Regions from separate parts of the Homo sapiens genome. Here regions 1 and 3 are each reported to be linked to region 2. The links are microRNA targets in miRTarBase. Many come from high-throughput screens and were not tested one by one. Region 2 holds a microRNA gene; each other region holds the end of a gene's coding sequence.

Region 1 (3,155 bases), not on the chromosome of region 2:
AGAGTAAGTCGCAGGCAGGTGCCTTTAGTTGGGAAGATGCAGGCTCCTTTCGGTGAAATTGGGTTATGAAATGTATGCTTTCAATCCAAATGTAACTGTTTTTACTAGCTAATTTTCAGAAACAATCATTGGGAGGGGGAAGTGTTCTTTGAATTAAGAACTAGTCATTGCAGCTTTGGAATACTGTCGAGCCAGAAAATATCTGCCTCCATGTATTAAAACATTAAATAAAGTTGTTCACTTTTTTGTCTTTTGGTTAGCATTAAGTCAGTTTTAGACAGAGGGAGAATTTGAAATAGTAGAATGGTGGTTGGGTTCAGGATCGTATTTATTAGTCAGTTAACCTAGGATTGGTTTTATTTATTTTTTTTCAATTGGTCTAAAGAATGGTGATTTTGGTATTATAGTCTTACCCTACAAAATCCTTTTGCAGACCAAGTTTTACAGGAAAACTCCAGTGATTTTCAATCAAACATTGCATAGGTAAATATTTTCTCAAAAAATATAAATTCCCAATAGCAAATACTGATATGTTGTAATAATGCTTTCTATAGCAGTCAATGGCTCTGACTTAACTCCATGGAGGCTGCCATTTGGGCACAGTGAGTTGCCTTTAGTCCAGCTTGGTTGTCTCACTTCCTGCCCACCATGAATAGGAAAAGCAAGAGACTTCCCCTGTGCTCCCTTTTCTCAAATGCCATTCGAGGGACACATTGTGAATGTTTATGTTAAATTTTTTTTAAAAATGCCTTGTTTAGCTTTAAAAATACGAAGTAATTTTGCAATTTTTGAAAAACACTAGTTTTCCTTTAAACTTAATTTTTCATGTTGATCCTGAAGAATCCGTTAAAATGGTAGCACAAGAGTCTGGCAAGTTGGTACTGCAGAGAAAAGGGGTTAATTGAGGCTTGTTTGGAGTCGGGATTCCCCTTTCCCAAACATGCGTCTCGCCACTTGGACAGCAGCCATTTGTACTCGTATACTTTTTAAACTTTTTCTTGGAATACTATATTTTATTTGACTGGTAGTCTGATATTACTCCTAACTTGTCAAATTGATCTCTTTGCAGGTAACCAAGGAGCAGTGAACAGCAGCTACTACAGTAGTGGAAGCCGTGCATCTATGGGCGTGAACGGAATGGGAGGGTTGTCTAGCATGTCCAGTATGAGTGGTGGATGGGGAATGTAATTGATCGATCCTGATCACTGACTCTTGGTCAACCTTTTTTTTTTTTTTTTTTTTTTCTTTAAGAAAACTTCAGTTTAACAGTTTCTGCAATACAAGCTTGTGATTTATGCTTACTCTAAGTGGAAATCAGGATTGTTATGAAGACTTAAGGCCCAGTATTTTTGAATACAATACTCATCTAGGATGTAACAGTGAAGCTGAGTAAACTATAACTGTTAAACTTAAGTTCCAGCTTTTCTCAAGTTAGTTATAGGATGTACTTAAGCAGTAAGCGTATTTAGGTAAAAGCAGTTGAATTATGTTAAATGTTGCCCTTTGCCACGTTAAATTGAACACTGTTTTGGATGCATGTTGAAAGACATGCTTTTATTTTTTTGTAAAACAATATAGGAGCTGTGTCTACTATTAAAAGTGAAACATTTTGGCATGTTTGTTAATTCTAGTTTCATTTAATAACCTGTAAGGCACGTAAGTTTAAGCTTTTTTTTTTTTTAAGTTAATGGGAAAAATTTGAGACGCAATACCAATACTTAGGATTTTGGTCTTGGTGTTTGTATGAAATTCTGAGGCCTTGATTTAAATCTTTCATTGTATTGTGATTTCCTTTTAGGTATATTGCGCTAAGTGAAACTTGTCAAATAAATCCTCCTTTTAAAAACTGCACTCTGTCTTGTCTGTGCTTCAGTGTCATGTGGACTGAGTCTTGGTGCTCTGTGCCCACCTGGGGCCTAGGGCCACATCTCTGGCTTGGCAGTTGAGGCTGTTGCGTAGATGTCTTCAGTCTTCCCTCCAGTGCAACTGAAGGTAAACTCGTCTTTGGGGCCCTGGTGGAAGGGCTGTATGTCATTTGGCTGCACAGGACCTGATCTGAACTGCCTGTAACTCATTAAGCACTTGCACAAAACAAAGGGGGAGGCGCCAGTGCCCTCACTGCATGCCTGCATGTCTTTGAGGCCTTCATGCTTGGCTGGGAAGGTGCCGGAGGCAAGGGAGGTGTGATGAATATGTGGGTTTCTTCTAGCTCATAAGCTCATAGGTTTGTTTTTTTTTTTGAGGCAGAGTTATATTCTGTTGTCTCAGGCTGGATTGCAGTGGCGTGATCTCAGCTCACCTGCAACCTCCACCTTGTGGGCTTCTGCCTCAGCCTCCCAAGTAGTTGGGGTTACAGGCGCCCACCACCACTCCAGGCTAATTTTTTTTGTATGTTTAGTAGACACGGGGTTTCACGATGTTGGCCAGGCTGGTCTCCAACTCCTGACCTCATGAGATCTGCCCACCTCGGCCTCTGAAAGTGCTGGGATTATAGGCTGGAGCCATTGCCCAGCCTTCACAGATGGTTTTCAAATGGAAGTTTTGAACTTCTGTATTTTTGGGTCATTCCTAAAAATCAATTCCACTTGGAAGCAAAATTCCATGTAAGTCTCCTAAGGTAGAACGATAGGTAGAGATTGAGAGCTAACATGAGAAGTTTAAATGAACTCTTAAATATATCACGTTTTGGTAGTTCGAAGCTCCAACATGATGATAGCAAGTATTCAAGCTGCTTCCAAGTGGTGTACCTGAGCGAGTTAGAAACGCCACACTTGGAGACGAGTTCAGGAGTCCTTTATTAGCCGGCGACCGAGAGACGGCTACCGCATGAAAGTATCTCGGCCTCGAAGAAGGAGCTAGATTTTCTTTTATACTTTGGTTTGGAGAGGGGAGGGGGATTCTAGCTGCAGCCATCTTAGGGAAGAAAAACAGACAAAAAAGTTAAAGACAAATGGTTACAGGAAAACAGTTCCAGGTGCAGGAGCTTCAAATTCATCACAAAGTGACAGGTGAGGGGGCTCTGGGTGTTATCTACCGGACAAACATGGGGGCTTGATGGTACCATCTCTGAGTAAATTGCTGGGAACTGGACATCGCTTGCCTCAGCACCTTATCAGTTAACTGCACTCTTTGATACGTTGAGAGCTTGCACAAGT
Region 2 (3,155 bases):
TCTTTGTGTGTGTGTGTGTCCAGGCGGGAGGTTGCTGATGCTCCAGCTGTCTCTGAAAGGAGTGTGGTAGTCCCAGGCTCATGGGCTGGTTGCGGGGGTAGGGGGGAAGGATCATGCCCCCCGGCCCCCAGCTCTGGTCTCCCTCCAAGAGTTTTCACATCGGTTGTCTTAGTGGAACCCCCATTGAATGGATGAGCAAACTGAGGTGTGAAGCCACCTGCCCATCCAGTTATTTATAAAGACATGCACCAGGCCAGGGAGTGGTGGCTCATGCCTGTCATCCCAACAGTTTGGGAGGCCAAGACAGGCGGATCACCTGAGGTCAAGAGTTCGAGACCAGCCTGGCTAACATGGTGAAACCCTGTCTCTACTAAAAATACACACACACACACACACACACACAAAATTAGCTGGGCATGGTGGCGGGTGCCTGTGATCCCAGCTACTCAGGAGGCTGAGGCAGAAGAATTGCTTGAACCCAGGAGGCAGAGGTTGCGGTGAGCCAAGATCAAGCCACTGCACTCCAGCCTGGGAAACAGAGTAAGACTCTGTCTCAAAACAACAACAACAAAAAGCACCACATCTGCCTCCTTCTTCTAGTTACTGGGGCCCCCTGAGGCTAGGTGCTGGGGAGGGAGCCCTTTCCTGGCGGGGGCTGCAGAGGGGTGAGAAAGAACCCTCTGGAGTTGGGAGGTGGGGGATAGCAAGTTGGGCTGTTAGGAGGGGACCCCTAGTACCTACAGGTCTTCAGTGTCCTCCCCGAGATGAGATCTCAGCTCAGTCCCAGGAGGGGAGGGTGTGCTCAGGACTTGGACACAGAGGAGAGACGCTGTGCCGCTTACACAGCTCATCCACCCATCCATTCATTTAAGAAACTTTTATTGGCCAGGCACTGTGGCTCATTTTGAGAGGCCGAGGAGGATTGCTTGAACCTAGGAGTTGGAGACCAGCCTGGGCAACGTTTTGAGACCCTGTTCCTACAAAAACACTTTTTCGAAATAAGCTAGGTGTGGTGGTGCGTGCCCGTGGTTCCGGCTACTGGGGAGGCTGAGGCGGGAGGATCAACGCTTGACTCCAGTTATTAGAGGCTGCAGTGAGCTAAGGTCACACCATTGCACTCCAGCCTGGGTGACAAGAGCGAGATCCTGTCTCTAATTTAAAAAACAAAACTATGGAGCACTCCACGGAGCAGAACTTACCACCCACATTTCAGAAAGGGGTTTTAGGCCAGGCAAAGTGGCTCATGCCTGTAATCCCAGCACTTTGGGAGGCCGAGGGGGGAGGATTACTTGAGGTCAGGAGTTTGAGACCAGCCTGGCCAACACAGTGAAATCTCGTCTCTACTAAAAATACAAAAATTAGCCCACTGTGGTGGCAGATGCCTGTAATCCCAGCTACTTGGGAGGCTGAGGCCAGAGAATCACTCAAACCCTGGAGGCAGAGGTTGCAGTGAGCTGAGATTGGGCCACTGCACTCCAGCCTAGGCAACAGAGTGAGACTCTGTCTTAAAAAAAAAAAAAAAAGGGGATTTTAGCTGCCCTGCCCCAGCCTGTTTACCCCCAACCCTCTAATATTTAGTCCCAAATCCAGCCAGAGCCCATCCAGATTCCAGACACCAGCTCTCCTCTCCAAAGAGGAGTGGTTGGGGTCAGGGCAAAAAACAGGCTGAGTGACTGTGGCGGTGGGGGGTCCTGTCCCCAGTCCCCATTCCCCTTAAGCCGTGTCTGGCCCAGCCACAGTGACATTCATCCCCCGGTGGGTCTGGCCTCAGTCCTCACAACCCACCGACAACAATGAATGTTGATTGTGACCTCGGCTGTGGCCTAGGGGAGGGGACGTGCCCAGGCTGGATTGGGGGCTCCCCAGGCCCCCCTAGATCTGGAAGGTCAGAGTCACCGGCAGGAGGATGGCAATTCCAGGCCTCAGGGTCCACTCAACGGTCGATGGTTTGCCTGAGCTGCCCAAACTCACCGACAGGTTGAATGTTCCCCCAAACCCTTGGCAAATTTTCCGGGACCTGGAGTCGGGGGTGGGGTAGGTGGCAGGGAACCAGAGAGCATGAAGAGGGAGAGGAGGAGAGAGTAAGGAACCCCTTTTCTCTCATGAAATAAACAAACGCTTTTCAGGTGCTGTTTGCACCTAGATCTGGGAAAAACACAAGGCAAATATAAATGCTAGTAAATAAAATGTAGCCTTTGCTATGGGGATGGAGATGTAGCAGTGCAGGGGAGTGCTGGCCTCAAGCCCGCTCCTTAAGTAATTCACAAAGTGATCCTGGAGGTGCAGATTACCCCCCTTTGTCAACTGGGGAGACTGAGGCCAAAGGCCACTGCTAGTCCGAGGTGGAGGAGGCATTCCAAGTGTTCCCGGGAAGTCTGGCAACGGAGGATCCTGGCCCCGAGGGCATTGATGCAACGTGGAGATAAACAAGCCATTTTAATACAATGTAATACGTTCTGGGAGCTTCACTGAGTTCCGGGCACGATGGTTTAGGAATCACAACAGCGTGAGTGGAGCGCTTGGGGGTGGGGGGTCGTCAGGTCTCTCCACTTTACAAGTGCACTGGGGCCCCACTAGACAGGGGAGAGGCAGGAGGTTCAGAGAGGGCGCCGCTCGCCCCGCGTGCGCGGTCACACAGCATCTGAACTCGGGCACTTCCGGAGGGAGTCCGCGCAGCCACGTGGGGGCTGCCCCTTGGGCCTCAAAACCGGCTGCGGCGCCCCCTCTCCATTTCCTCATCCCTCAAATGACCCCCAGTCCCTTCCTCCAGTGATCGCACAGAGTTCGGCGACCACCCCCCCGCCCCGGGTGCCCCCAGGCCTACAGGTACGCACCCCTATCTCCCACCCCCCGCAAGCCAAGCAGTGACGACCAGGGATGGGCGAGCGCGCCTTCGCCCCTGACCTGGGTCTGCGGACGGCCTAGGAAGGTGCACCCGGCATGGCCGGGTGCTGCGGCTCAGGCCTGTAATTCAGTATTTTGGGAGGCTGAGGCGGGAGGATCTTTTGAGCCCAGGAGATGGAGACCAACCTGAGCAACATAGCGAGATACCTGTCCCTACAAAAAAATTAGCTGGGTGTGGTGTAGTGAGCCTGTAGTCTTAGCTACTTAGGAGGCTGAGATGGGAGGATCGCTTGGACCCCAAGAGTTCGAGG
Region 3 (3,155 bases), not on the chromosome of region 2:
GCAGAATTGGTTTGTAATACAAAGGAGAAATGCTGGAGTTGATGGATACATCTTTTGCCCTGATGTGATTAATACATAAAATTATATGCCTGTATCAAAATATGCCATACATGGCATAAAGATATACACATACTATGTATCCACAAAAATTAAGAGAAATAAGTTTAAATTTTAAAAAGAATAAAAATCTAACCTATGGGAACAATATTCTTTATTAGCAGTTTAAAGTCACTAGCAAAAATAATTATTAGAGATGTTAGCCCATTATGTTATCAAGTAGTATACTGTTACCCTCTTTTACCTAAACCCTTGAGTAATGTGGGATAGGTAAAGTCAGTGGCATGAAAACACTTCATTGAATGCACAATAGTTTTAACATGTTAAAAAAAGTTTAATTAAAAAACTAAGTTCACGCATAATCCAAAAATTTTTAAACACATTGCATTTTATTACATAAAAGTACAAATAGTAAAATGATATACTACTAATTCACTTTAATTTTAACTAAGATTAAAAATGGTTTTCTCTTACTATAATGCAGAAGAATATTGCTCTGAAAACCTACTTCATGGATCACTCAATATTATAAGTTAAACACAAACAGCCTCTTCACTCAGGTTTTCATCATGCATCTTACATTTTAATGTCCTTATTCTTTCATAGAAAGTGTCATAAATAATACCGACCTAACAGAAATGATTTCTCATATCTTTGATGCATGAAAAATTAATCACATGCTTTCACATGTGAATACAATAGGAATGAAGAGCATGAATTTGAGTTGAATTACATCATTTGCTTTTCAAAAACTAATTTTTCAAGAAAAAATATAATTTGAATGTAATTATACATCTACAAAAAAATTCTACTTCTTTTAAAGTTATATACACATTATTTACCTACCAACTTTAGTTTTAAATTATTTTCTATACTCAGCATTCTGATTCTATACTCAGCAATGTCTGAAGTGTCAGTACCTTAGATATTTCTACTGTGAATTCTCTGATATTTATATAGACTTAATTTTGGATTAAATTATTTTTATATTTACTTCACTTGCAAAAATATATTTTAGTATGAGGCCTCTGGTATTTTCTAAGCTGTAGTTTTTTAAAAAATGTTTTCACAAATGCATTACATTTACAGTGCTTTTCTCCAATATAAATTTTCTGGTGTTGAACAACATTTGAGCAACTGCTTCATGGTTTTCCTCTAGTGCAAAATGGGTACAAAAGTATCTGTGATACAAGTAAAGGTACTACAACCCTCTTCGTATTTGTATTGTTTGTCCTCACAATGAATACTCTTTTTTTGTTTTGTTTTTGAGACGAAGTTTTTGCTCTTGTTGCTTTGGCTGGAGTGTAGTGGTGTGATTTCAGCTCACTGCAATCTTCGCCTCCCAGGTTTGAGCAATTCTCCTGCTTCAGCCTCCCAATTAGCTGGGATTACAGGGGCCTGCCACCACACGCAGCTAATTTTTGTAAAATTTTTAATAGAGATGGGGTTTTGCTATGTTGGCCAGGCTGGTCTCAGACTCCTGCCCTCAGGTGATCCACCCACCTTGGCCTCCCAAAGTGCTGGCATTACAGATGTGAGCCAGCACAACTGGCTCCTCTTCTTCACTTTAAAGGCTTATATTTTCTGAAAGATCTCTTGACAAAAATTGCATTTATAATGCTTTTATTACGTACTAACTCTCTAATGTTGAGTAAAATCTGAGCAGATAATAATGGCTTTTCCACATTCCTTGTATTTGTACAATCTTTCTGAAGTATAAATGCTTTCCTGTGCAATAAGGGGTGAGCATTTATTAAAAGTGTTGCCACATTTTTTACACTTCCAGGAGTTTTCTTCAGTATGGATTCTTACCTACAATCAAGTGTGACAACCATTTAAAGGCTTTGTGATATTTTTCACATTTCTAGGATTTTTCACCAGTATGATTTATGTTAGAAAGTTCGAGGTGTTGTCAAAATTATTGTCACATCATTCAGGTTTGTAAAGTTTTCAGTATTATCTTATGTTTAGTGAGGTTTGAGGATTGGTTTAAAGTATTGCCACATTATTCACATTTGCAGGGTTTCTCTCAAAGTATAAACTGTCTTATATGTAGCAAGGTGTGAGGACCAGTTAAAGGCATTGCCACGTTTTTTACATTTGTAGGGTTTCTTTCCAGTATAAATACTCTTACATGTAGTAAGAGTTGAGAATCAGTTAAAAGCTTTGCCACAGACTTCACATTTGTAGGGTTTCTTTCCAGTATGAATTTTCTTATCTACAGTTAAGGGTTAAGGAAGGTTAAAAGCTTTGCCACATTCTTCACAATTGTAGGCTTTCTCTCCAGTATGAATTTCTGTATAGTAAGGTATGAGGATTGGTTAAAAGCTTTGCCACATTCTTCACAACTATAGAGTTCCTCTCCAGTATAAATTATCTTATGTGTAGAAAGGTGTGAGGACTGATTAAAGGCATTGCCACATTCTTCTCATTTGTATGGCTTTTCTCCAGTATGAATTACCTTATGTTTAGTAAAAGTTGAGGATCAGTTAAAGGATTTGCCACATTTTTCACATTTGTAGGATTCTCTCCAGTACGAATTTTCTCAACTTTCAGTAAGGTTTGAAGATTAGTTAAAAGCTGTGCCACATTCTTTACATTGTAAGGTTTCTCACCAGTATAAAATACCTCGTGTGTGCAGAAAAAGTTGAAGACTTGTTAAAGGCTTTAACACATTCTTCACATTTGTAGTTTCTCTCCAGTATGAATTTTCCTATGTGTAGTAAGCTTGTAGGATCAATTAAGTTTTGCCATACTCACATTTGTAGGGTTTCTCTCCAGTATGAATTTTCTTATGTGTAGTAAGATTTGAGGATAGGTTGAAAGCTCTGCCATAATCTCCACATTTGTAGGGTTTCTCTCCAGTATGAATTATCTTATGTATATTAAGAGATGAGAACTGGTTAAAGGATTTGCCACATTCTTCACATTTGTAGGGTTTCTCTGAAGTATGAATTTTCTTATGTGTAGTAAGGTTTGAGGATTGGTTAAAAGCTTTGCCACATTCTTCACATTTATAGGGTTTCTCTCCAGTATGAATTTTCTTATGTGCAGTAAGGGTTGAGGATAGGTTAAAAGCTTTGCCACATTCTTTACAT

The links. The annotated mature microRNA hsa-miR-181d-5p reads AACAUUCAUUGUUGUCGGUGGGU and lies in region 2 at 1,780-1,802, opposite strand. An mRNA with a match to its seed (bases 2 to 7 or 8) in the 3' UTR can be bound and repressed. Matches are read on the target gene's strand: a 7mer-m8 pairs with bases 2 to 8, a 7mer-A1 pairs with bases 2 to 7 and ends in A, and an 8mer does both.
Region 1: the mRNA of HNRNPH1 is a reported target of hsa-miR-181d-5p. Seed matches in the 3' UTR shown: 7mer-A1 at 1,181-1,187.
Region 3: the mRNA of ZNF107 is a reported target of hsa-miR-181d-5p. The part of its 3' UTR that is shown has no 7-base or 8-base seed match.

What each region holds. Positions count from the first base shown.
Region 1 is chr5:179,612,874-179,616,028 of GRCh38, reverse strand. It overlaps HNRNPH1 (heterogeneous nuclear ribonucleoprotein H1), which reads left to right. Exons shown (of 14, transcript NM_001257293.2): 13 at 434-483; 14 at 1,070-1,851. The coding sequence ends at 483. The region is part of intron 4 of LOC128966623 (a long non-coding RNA gene); the gene reads right to left. Among named protein-coding and RNA genes, the nearest start is that of HNRNPH1, 9.2 kb to the left of the region's middle. RefSeq lists an enhancer at 2,142-2,201.
Region 2 is chr19:13,873,557-13,876,711 of GRCh38, reverse strand. MIR181D (microRNA 181d) reads right to left here and starts at 1,837; the gene lies at 1,701-1,837. It overlaps MIR181C (microRNA 181c), which reads right to left and starts at 2,013; the gene lies at 1,904-2,013. It also overlaps a transcript of NANOS3 not described here.
Region 3 is chr7:64,708,299-64,711,453 of GRCh38, reverse strand. ZNF107 (zinc finger protein 107) reads right to left here. Exons shown (of 4, transcript NM_001282359.2): 4 at 1-3,155. The coding sequence ends at 2,798. Among named protein-coding and RNA genes, the nearest start is that of MIR6839, 31 kb to the right of the region's middle.